3 linked regions of the Homo sapiens genome follow. The protein of the gene in region 1 interacts with the protein of each later gene in a biochemical or structural test. Each region holds a gene or a part of one and is shown in the gene's direction. Other genes may lie near its edges.

What was found.
Region 2: the proteins of HNF4A (region 1) and NCOA6 form a complex in vitro, tested with the Homo sapiens proteins (2 studies listed by BioGRID).
Region 3: the proteins of HNF4A (region 1) and SREBF2 form a complex in vitro, tested with the Homo sapiens proteins (2 studies listed by BioGRID and IntAct).

What each region holds. Positions count from the first base shown.
Region 1 is NC_000020.11:44,353,638-44,357,388, forward strand, and holds the start of HNF4A (hepatocyte nuclear factor 4-alpha), read left to right. Parts: upstream 1-2,061; 5' UTR 2,062-2,167; coding exon 2,168-2,216; intron 2,217-3,106; exon of another isoform or gene 3,107-3,751. UniProt on the Homo sapiens protein: Transcriptional regulator which controls the expression of hepatic genes during the transition of endodermal cells to hepatic progenitor cells, facilitating the recruitment of RNA pol II to the promoters of target genes. Activates the transcription of CYP2C38.
Region 2 is NC_000020.11:34,741,985-34,745,735, reverse strand, and holds part of NCOA6 (nuclear receptor coactivator 6), read left to right. Parts: intron 1-2,394; coding exon 2,395-3,751. UniProt on the Homo sapiens protein: Nuclear receptor coactivator that directly binds nuclear receptors and stimulates the transcriptional activities in a hormone-dependent fashion. Coactivates expression in an agonist- and AF2-dependent manner.
Region 3 is NC_000022.11:41,836,014-41,839,764, forward strand, and holds part of SREBF2 (sterol regulatory element-binding protein 2), read left to right. Parts: intron 1-3,751.

The sequences.
Region 1 (3,751 bases):
GGCTTTGGGGTCAGATGATGCTGAATTCCAGTTCTGTGTTGGCTCCTTCGTAGTTATGTGACCTCATGACGCCACTTCATGCAGGGGGTTACGTACCACTTAAATCTCCAGAACATTTTGGGAAATTGACATAGGGTTAGCAAACCTCCCCCACCCCCATATAAAAATATTAATACTTTTTTTTTTTCTGAGATGGAGTCTGGCTCTGTCGCCAAGGCTGCAGTGCAGTAGTGCAATCTTGGCTCACTGCAACATTTGCCTCCTAGGTTGAAACGATTCTCCTCCTTCAGCCTCCCGAGTAGCTGAGATTACAGGTGCTCGCTGCCACACCCAGCTAATTTTTGTATTTTTAGTAGAGATGGGATTACACCGTGTTGGCCAGCCTGGTCTCAAACTCCTGACCTCAAGTGATCCACCTGCCTCAGCCTCCCAAACTGCTGGGATTACAGGCATGAGCCACTACACCCGACCAAGAATATTAATACTTTTTTTTAAAAAATATCGAAGTTATTTATTTATTTATTTATTTATTTATTTATTTATTTATTTTGAGATGGAGTCTCTCTCTGTTGCCCAGGCTGGAGTGCAGTGGCACGATCTTGGCTCACTGCAACCTCTGTCCCCCTGGTTCAAACGATTCTCTTGCCTCAGCCTCCCGTTTGCCACCATGCCCGGCTAATTTTTTTATTTTTGGTAGAGACGGGGTTTCACCATGTTGGTCAGGCTGGCCTCAAACTCCTGACCTCGTGATCGGTGCGCCTCGGCCTCCCAAAATGCTGGGGTTACAGGCGTGAGCCACTGCACCCGGCCCCAAAATCTAACGTTTGTTATCACTGTTGTTTTAGAAAAGAAAGGACATTTTAATGCAACCCATGCCCATCTGTAGGGGCTGAAGGTCCCTCTGAGGTGATTGATAAAGCTGAAAAAAGAGACTATGGGAAGAGAAGAGGAATATTATCAATTAGCTATTTTAGAAGCAGGGCAAACTATGAGCTAGGTATTCCTATAAGGAAATGAAATAATTTACTAAAAAACATACAGCAAGAAAATAATAGAGCTGGAGTTTTCTGATTTTTCTGAGTCCAGAATTTGTTTCACTGTTCTCATTTCAGCTCTCTCTAACAGGATGAATGACCTTGATTTCAGAATCCCCAAGCAGGTGGTGAGATCCAAAACTGAGACAAAAGAAACGGGGCTGTTCCAAAAAAAAAGCTAGGTGGCAGGTGTCTAACATGCCAGGGAGCTAAAACAGAGTGTGTGAGTTTCAGCAGCAGGTTGAATTTAGAATGGGGAAGGAGACCAGAGGAGACGCCAGACAGGATGACTTTGTCCCATTGGCCTGGAGGCAGCCCCATGTTTCTCCACCCCTCATATCACTCACCAGTTTGTAATAGTATCTTTGAATGACGATCTGATTAAGGTCCGTCTCCTCCATTAGTCCACAAGTTTCGGGGGTACATCTACTTTGCTCATTTCCATATCCCCAGAGTCTAGCACAAGGCCTGGTACATAGTAGGTGCTCAATAAATATGTTAGATGAAAGGAAGATAACACCTCTATGTACTAGCAGTGAGACTCCAGGCATGCAATTTCTCTCTGTCCTTCAGTCCCTTCATCTCAAGGTTTAATTTAAATATGGTAACGCCTGTATGCAACTCCCAGCATCCAGTAGGCACTCACTAAACACAGTTCTCCACCCTCCTTTTTTCCTCTGCCCCTCCCTCGGTTTTCCCACTACTTCCTGCATGGTGACACACCCATAGTTTGGAGCCATAAAACCCAACCCAGGTTGGACTCTCACCTCTCCAGCCCCTTCTGCTCCGGCCCTGTCCTCAAATTGGGGGGCTGATGTCCCCATACACCTGGCTCTGGGTTCCCCTAACCCCAGAGTGCAGGACTAGGACCCGAGTGGACCTCAGGTCTGGCCAGGTCGCCATTGCCATGGAGACAGCAACAGTCCCCAGCCGCGGGTTCCCTAAGTGACTGGTTACTCTTTAACGTATCCACCCACCTTGGGTGATTAGAAGAATCAATAAGATAACCGGGCGGTGGCAGCTGGCCGCACTCACCGCCTTCCTGGTGGACGGGCTCCTGGTGGCTGTGCTGCTGCTGTGAGCGGGCCCCTGCTCCTCCATGCCCCCAGCTCTCCGGCTGGGTGGGCTTGGCCATGGTCAGCGTGAACGCGCCCCTCGGGGCTCCAGTGGAGAGTTCTTACGGTAAGTGGGGCTGGGGGAAGACTGGACAGGGCGGGACTGCGGTCAGCTTTGGGAGGCCATGGGACACCTCCCCGTGTGTTTCTTACGGGCCCAAAGCTCCTCCTGGAGCTCCTCTGGAAGGGCAGGAAGCCCCACGGAGGCAATGTGACCGCTTCCCTAAGCTCTCAAGCCGGGGCATGGCCTGCTTGGTGCGAGAAGTGCTGGGAGGGGCCGAGAAGCCCTGGGGCAGAGGCTTGGCTCATTTTGTCTGTCCAGAGGCCTTCCTGGGAATGCATCTCAGGGGTCTTTCCAAAACCCCACAGAGGGTGGGGCTTGGAAGCACCGTCCTGTTTCGATGCGGGGCAAATTGAGGTCCACCAGGAGAGGCTTGCTGGGCCTAGGTCACGTTGCTGGTGCATTATCAAGCTGGGCGTGGGACCGGGCAGCTCGGTCGCTCCGCACCTCCGTTGGCTCTGGATAATGGGGAGGAGGTAGAAAGCGCCGCGCAGGGTGGAGCGTTGGAAAATGAGAATATCTTGTGCGGACGTGTGAAACTCAGATGCAGGGCTAGAAAGCATGTGTTACTGAGAGTGAAAGGCTCAGGCTCACTCCTTAGGGTGACCCCCACATTGGAAGCAACCCAATGTCCCTCAGCAGAGGGAAGACGGGTAAATAAAGCGTGAGACGTCTTTACAGTGGAATGCTATCCCATTGTTCAAGGAAACAACGCACATCTGTGTGTGACAGGGAAGAACCTCTCAGTTAAATTAAGTGAAAACGGTACACTGAAGAACTGTGTAGTTGCTGATAGCGAAACGGATATAGATGTATATATGTACACACGCGTATACGTGTACATTCCACGCATAGAAAATTCGTGGAATGACACAATAAAATTGGTGACAGGTTTGTTTCTGAGGAGGGAAATTCAAGAGAATGTTTTATCTTTTGGGGACACATTTTGGATTTTTTAAAAGTTGGGTGCCTTTTATAAACCTGTTCAAATCACACACCCGCACAGAACTTGGTCTCTGGAATCCAGCAGACCTCGGGGTCTAGTTGTGACTCTGTCACACGGCTCAACATTCACGTGCCTCTTGCTTTCTTTCTGAAGTGGAGACAGGACTAGGATGTGTCTTAAGATCATGGTGGATGCCGTGGGGAACAAGGATGTAAAGCCCTTGATACCACGTGCATTGCAAAGACACAATCAACATTTATGTCATCAATTGCTGAGGACAGAGGGCCAGGGAATGACAGAATCAGGGCCTGATCTCCTGACTCTAGTCAGGAAGAATCTTCTTTGCTTTGACCCCCATCAAACAGGAATATGTGATGCACTGGAAATGGCAGAGGCTGAAGAAACCAACAGCCTGGGAACCCATCCCACACACCAGCTGTGTGACCTTGGGCAAGACATTTCCCCTCTCTGAACCTATTTCCTCATCTGTAAAATGAAGATAACAACAGGACCTATCTCCCAGAGAGCGGGGAGATTAGAGGAGATAGCATAGAGGAGATTAAGGGTGAGGCCACCCTTAATCCACAATTTTAAG
Region 2 (3,751 bases), 9.6 Mb from region 1:
AACCCTTCACACTTAGGCCACTCTCCCCTGTGTGTACAGAGGGTATGTTTTGTTTCTTCCTCACTAGTTATTTCAACTTCTTTTTGGCATGAAAATGAGAGCGACATTATTTTAGGAGTAACCTTTAATCTACCCCTAATTTATGTATTTTAAAATTGAATCCAAACAAAAAGCTAAATCCATCATGATATCAATACTTTGTGTTATTTATTACAAATTATTTGGGCATATCACACTTCCCGTCAGTGAGATGCAGCAGCATAGCTGAGACTGGGAGGTCATCAGTCTTTGGGGAGTATGTCCAGAAGGCATTGAGAGCAGGAACATGCCTGCTTGCCTCAGACACATCTGAACTCTTCTTATAAGAATCCCAGGGGTCTTTGTATACATTTATTGCCTTCTTTCTGCAAACTGGGGGCCTGCAGGCTGAATTTGGCCTATAATGGTTTTGAGTTGCTATGCAGTGTCTTAAACAAAAGTCCGAGTTTAAATGCCTTTAAATAGGGCATCTGCTCTGCAGTTTGGCACTGTTGACAGGACTCCTGCTGTCTTATACCAGTCCACTTCTATTCTCTACTACCTGCCTGGCCCCTAAAGGCATAGGAGTTTGCATTCCCTGAGTAATAAATTCAGTTTGTGATTGTGTTATGGGCACTATGTGTGTCCTGGCTTTCCCTCTTCACCATTCTGTCACGTCAGCCCCAATCTGTCTTATCATTAGTGCCTTTTGGACTGCTGCCTCCAGCTTCTGGACTCTGTAGCAGCCATGCCCTTAACTGTTACTTTTGAGAGGCTGCTATATTGTCTATGCTGTCCTCTTTGGTATTTACTGTCTGGTGGGCTGATTTTAAAGATAAAAGGCATCCATGTCATAACCCTGACATCAACAGGCTTTTGTAGCAATTACAAATTTCTTAATGTGGGAACCCCAGACTGAATGTGAAAAATAGGAACCCACTGTATTTGACTATGTAGTCGAAAGGACAGTTGAACCATAGAAATGCCATGTTATTGGCTTTATAAAGGTGAAGAAGTTACTCGGGCCTAAAATAAAAAAGGATTTTTTTAAAAATCTTCAAAACTGGATTCTACACATTGTATTCATTGATACCATGGAAATCTTTGGCCAGAAGACATTAATTGAGTGCTGAGTCTGACCCACAAAATTTGGTAGCTGCTCTATGAAAATGTTGAGTCAGCATTTCTTTTGACTGCCAGAGCCAGTTGTTCTTATTCCTACACCTTCTTAAAACCTCCCTAATGTACTCTTCATGCAACAATGGAATAAATCTAGTTTGTGGAACTGGAATTGTATCCCATATATGCCCAGCTGTATGCCCACTTTTTCCCACAGAACCACCGTTATTCTTGGTTTGCGTATCTTTTTATCTTTTCTGATTGTAAGGTTTTGGTTCTAAAATGCCAAGTAAAATCTTCACAAAAAAAGAGAATAATTTGAGATGTTGCCCTCTGCATATCTAGAAGACATTGTCCTTCAGAGTTCTTTTCCCAAAATTATTTTTTATTCCTGAGGGCTATGCTTCTGCCTTACTTATTCTCCAGCTGTGGATTCATGGAAAATATTTCTCCAAATAGAGATTTGCATGTAAGAAAGTAAGTGCAAATTAATATCCATAAAAACTTCAATGCCCTAATTTTATTTTCAATGTGTATATCAGCTTCCATTAGCTCCTACTGTTTATTAAACTGATTTACACCTGAAGGGCAATTTTAATTCAGTCGGTTTCCCCCAAAGGATTAAGCCTGAAGGATGCGGCGTAGTGTATGGAGCCAATGAATTGGAATAATTTTAAATTCCTCTTTCTTAAGGAACTGAATCCTAGAATTTTATATTTTACTTCTGTTGAAAGAATAAAAAGGCTGTCTTCAGTGCTGTTATTTTCAACAAAACCACATCTTAAAAAAATTATTCCTGTGCTAACAGAAGAAGTGAATCCTAAATGCTTTACTTCATTCACAAGTACATTGAAATATTGATTATGACTACATGAGACCTGAATCTTGGGTGGCCAGGCACTTGATGTTGATGGAGTTTTTCTCATTTCATCTGAATGTTTGGCTGGTATAGACACAGCCATTTTCAGTGCATAGCACAGAAAATCAGGCTCTTAGTACAGTCATGGCTCATTCAGATCCTACACACCGAGGAGCTCCAGGTTTTTTGATGCTTTGCTTTTTGCTTCCTTAAGCACTGTGCCCCTTTTGCTTATGTCAAGTAATGAGGGGCTGCCCCCTGCCCCAGGAGTGGGCATGCCTGAGCTGTTTGTGCATAGTCTGTGCCACCTAGATGAGTATTGCTTGGCTATACTCTAAAGGTAGCAACATTTTCTTGCTGAAAAATCTAACTTCCCTAATTTGGGGGGCTTGTTTTAGGTTATCCTTCTCAACCAGTTGAACAGAGGCCACTTCAGCAGATGCCTCCTCAACTCATGCAGCATGTGGCACCCCCACCACAGCCACCACAGCAGCAGCCACAGCCACAACTGCCTCAGCAGCAGCAGCCACCACCTCCCAGTCAGCCACAGTCTCAGCAGCAGCAGCAGCAGCAGCAACAAATGATGATGATGCTCATGATGCAGCAGGATCCCAAATCAGTTAGGCTTCCAGTCTCTCAAAATGTCCATCCTCCAAGGGGCCCCCTGAACCCCGACTCCCAGAGAATGCCCATGCAACAGAGTGGCAGTGTGCCTGTCATGGTCAGTCTGCAAGGACCTGCCTCCGTGCCACCATCACCTGATAAACAAAGAATGCCAATGCCTGTGAATACTCCCTTGGGAAGCAATTCAAGGAAAATGGTCTATCAGGAGAGCCCGCAGAATCCTTCCAGCTCGCCACTGGCGGAGATGGCCTCACTCCCTGAAGCAAGTGGCAGTGAAGCACCATCTGTCCCAGGAGGCCCAAACAACATGCCTTCACATGTAGTACTTCCCCAGAATCAGTTAATGATGACAGGGCCAAAACCTGGACCATCGCCCCTTTCAGCAACTCAAGGTGCAACTCCCCAGCAACCCCCTGTAAATTCCCTGCCCAGCTCTCACGGCCACCACTTCCCAAATGTGGCTGCGCCAACCCAGACATCTAGGCCCAAAACACCAAACAGAGCCAGCCCCAGACCCTATTATCCTCAGACACCCAACAACCGCCCTCCCAGCACAGAACCTTCAGAAATCAGTCTGTCACCAGAAAGACTCAATGCCTCCATAGCAGGACTCTTCCCTCCACAGATTAATATTCCTTTACCTCCTAGGCCAAATTTAAACAGGGGCTTTGATCAACAAGGCCTAAATCCAACAACTTTGAAGGCCATCGGGCAAGCACCTTCAAATCTTACCATGAATCCTTCCAATTTTGCTACCCCACAAACTCACAAATTAGATTCTGTGGTAGTGAATTCTGGAAAGCAGTCTAATTCTGGAGCAACAAAACGGGCAAGTCCAAGCAACAGTCGCAGGTCTAGTCCTGGGTCCAGTAGGAAAACCACTCCAAGCCCTGGGAGGCAAAATTCAAAAGCCCCTAAACTTACTCTGGCCTCTCAGACAAATGCAGCCCTATTGCAGAATGTGGAGTTGCCGAGAAATGTATTGGTCAGTCCCACTCCTCTGGCCAATCCCCCTGTACCTGGGAGCTTTCCTAACAACAGTGGGCTGAATCCTCAGAATTCTACTGTGTCTGTGGCTGCAGTTGGGGGTGTTGTTGAGGATAACAAGGAGAGCTTGAATGTGCCTCAGGA
Region 3 (3,751 bases), on another chromosome or scaffold:
CTCTGGAAACTACCACAGTGGTTCAGTGGCTTCATAGGTCCATTAGGTTTGATCCCAGTGGAAGAAGATTCCATTTCTCTGTCCTTCCAGAAGACCTGGTTTATAACAGTGCATAAGGCTTTTTCTCAAAATAGTTATATACCGCACAAGGAAGAGGTGTGGCTGTTGTGTCACAGGAGACCTAGGGGCCAGGTTTGGGAAAAGTGGTTCCATGTCTTCAGTTGATCAACAAGTATTCAAGTGCTGGCTGTGGTTTCTGAGCTGTAAGGAATCGTGAAAGATAGCATAGAATTTTATGGCTTCATGGAGCTTGAGATGAGAAACTCTAGTGCCAGTATGGAACAGCTTAAAATTGCACAGCACAACAAGTAAAAGTCAGCAGTGAGGGTAGCTTGGTAAAGGCTGGCTTAGCAGGAAGACCACACCAAAGAGGTGGCTCTTGACCTGGGCCTTGGAGGACAAAAAGAGTTGGGCATGCTGAAGGTCAGTGGTCTGAAGATAAAATTATCCCTTGATTCTCACCCCTGTGTTCCCATTACTGAATGTTAGCTCCTTGAGGCAGAGACCTTCGTTTCATTCCCACTAAATTCTTTGAACCTAGAACAGTGCCTGGCACAGTGAGAGTGCCCATTAAATATTTGTGGAATGCCTGAGTGATCCAGTGATCTTGGGCTGGGCAGGATACTAATTGTCTTGGACATGGTTTGGAGTTGGATTAGATCAAGGAAATAGCCAGCCTGGATGCTTCTAGGAGCCGGTCAGGTGAGGAAGGGGAGAGGCAGGCAGGGTGAGTACATTTACTTCCTTTGTATGTGTATGGTGGGGATAAGGGGTGGATGCAACCTAGAGAGCCTCCAGGAGGTGCAGGCAGGCAAGGATCCATTCATTCCACAATGTCTGCTGTGTTCCAGTCCATTGGTACCCTTCAAGGATATGGGCTCAGGGAGGCCACATTCATTTACTCATTGAATGGCTTCTAAGTATTCATGATGGACAAAGGATAACTTGAGCGCGACAGATCATGTGTCTTCTCTCTCACGAAGCTTACATTCTTGATGGAGGAAATACAAGTTGAGTAAAATAAATGAACAGTTTAGGCAGGGCACTGTGAGCAAAATAAAATTGGGCCATATTATAGAGTGTGACTGGGCTAGCCTACTTAGATTCGGAAGTCCAGGGAGGCTTCTTGGAAGAGAGGTATCAGTGTCTGTTTTTCAAGAGATGCCGAAGTCTGGATTTTTATTTGAAATACCCAGATTTTTGGCCGGGCACAGTGGCTCATGCCTGTAATCCCAGCACTTTGGGAGGCCGAGGTGGGCGGATCACCTGAGGTCAGGAGTTCAAGACCAGCCTAGCCAATATGGTGAAACCCCATCTCTACTAAAAATACAAAAATTAGCCGGGCATGGTGGTACACGCCTATAGTCCCAGCAACCCAGGAGGCAGAGACAGGAGAATCACTTGAACCTGGGAGGCAGAGGTTGCAGTAAGCTGAGATCATGCCACTGCACTCCAGCCTAGGCAACAGAATGAGACTCTGTCTAAAAAAAAAAAAAAAAAAAATGCTGGACACGGTGGCTCACACCTATAATCCCAGCACTTTGGGAGGCCGAGGCGGGTGGATCACCTGAGGTTGGGAGTTTGAGACCAGCCTGACCAACATGGAGAAACCCCGTCTCTACTAAAAATACAAAATTAGCCGGGCGTCGTGGCACATGCCTGTAATCCCAGCTACTCAGGAGGCTAAGGCAGGAGAATTGCTTGAACCCGGGAGGCAGAGGTTGCAGTGAGCCGAGATCGCGCCATTGCACTCCAGCCTGGGCAACAAGAGCAAGACTCTGTCTCAAAAAAAAAAAAAAAAAGAAAGAAAGAAAGAAATACCCAGATTTTTATATGTTGGCTCATTTAAAAAAAAAGTACTATAGGCACCCAATAAAGCATGTGTGCTAGTTGATCTCTGGGGTCTTGTACTACTGCAGAACGTCCTGTTGTCCCAGGCCCCCAGGTTTCCCATAATAGAGTAAGTCTACCATTTCATTTTGTGTTATATATCTCTATTTTGAGAAAGGGCCTCATGTGCCATTACACACCAGGTCTTCTGGAAGGGCAGCAAGGTGGGATCCTCTTCCACTGGGATCAGGAAAGAAACAGTCATGGAGGTGACCTTTTTGCTGGGTCCAAATAGATGGGTGGCAGGAGCAGCCTGACAAGTATGTGGGAGGAGTTAGAACAAGCTGCCTTTGGAAATGAAAGTTTACTAGAGATTTCTTGGAATATAGTGTGTGTGAGGAAACAGTAGAAGATGAGGTCTGAGAGGTGAGGTGGAGCTAAATTGTACTGTAGATGCAAGGTGTTTTATGGAAGATAGGGAATTGTTGAAGATTTTCAAGTAGGGGGTGACATATTAATCATGGGTTTTTAAGAAAATTGAATTGTGGGCTGGGCTCAGTGGCTCATGCCTGTAATCCTAGCATTTTGGTAGGCCGAGGAGGGTGGATCACCCGAGGTCAGGAGTTCGAGACCAGCTTGGCCAACATGGTGAAACCCCATTTCTACTAAAGATGCAAAAATTAGCCGGGCATGATGGTGGGCACCTGTAACCCCAGCTACCTGGGAAGCTGAGGCAGGAGAATCGCTTGAACCTGGGAGGCGGAGGTTGCAGTGAACCCAGATTGTGCCACTGTACTCCAGCCTAGGTGACAGAGCAAGACCTTGTCTCAAAAAAATAAAAGAGAAAGAAAAGAAAATTGAACGGTGGTGATAGGCAAGGAAGATTGGAGGCAGGGAGGCCAATTAGGAAACTGTAGCCATCCAGGTGTGAGGTGATGAAGGGTGACAAATTTGGATGGGAAGTGGCCCTCATTCAAATACCTTTCCATGGCACTGACTTGGGCCTCTGCTTGCTTCTCCCTGCAGAAACCCAGTTTGACAGAGTACCCTGCAGTACCTGGCACTGACTAGGTGTTCTGTAAAGGTGTGTCTGATGAGGAAAGGAAAGCACCTCAAGTTCAGTCTGAGTGTTCACACCATTGGGAAGGTTGGAGTGGCCAACTGGGTGAGCAAGGAGTGAGTGTTGGGGATGTGACAGGACATGTCCTCACTGAAGGCTTGTCCCTGAAGGCAGAGCAGAGGGAGAATTCTAAGATCCCATTAAGACTTTGAGCCTGGAGCACTGGGGGAGTTAGGAGTCAGCAGAAAGAGCTGGTTAGGGGAAATGATGAAAATTTATCTTAATTGTGCTGAAATTGGGGTGCCTGGGGGTCATCCATTAGGAAATGAGATGTAGATACTTAGGAGAAGGTAAAACTGGGATGGAGATTGAAGAGAGTCACTGCTGAGTCAAGAGGAGAGAACTGGGAGATTAGAGGTTAGGAAAGTGTTAGCTTTTCAAGGAGTAGTCTGTAGATGGTGGAGACAATGCCACAGAGAACAACAAGGATGACAAGGCCATGCAAGGAGTCGTGGGACTTGGTATTAGGAGGCCAAACCTTGCCAGAACAGTCAGATGAGGGAATCCAAGGCAGAAAGGAAGCAGGGGTGAGTGGGAGATGGGCAGGTGGAAGCAAGTAGTTCTCTTTGGAGAAAGTAGAATAATTTTTTCAATGAGCTGATCTACTTTCTGTCTTGATGAGTTTGCCTGTTCTGGACAACTCATAAATGGAATCAGACAGGTAGCATAATATTGCTTAGGTTCATCATGTTGCAGTGTAGTGTTCCATTGCATGGACACACCGCATTCTGTTTTATCTAC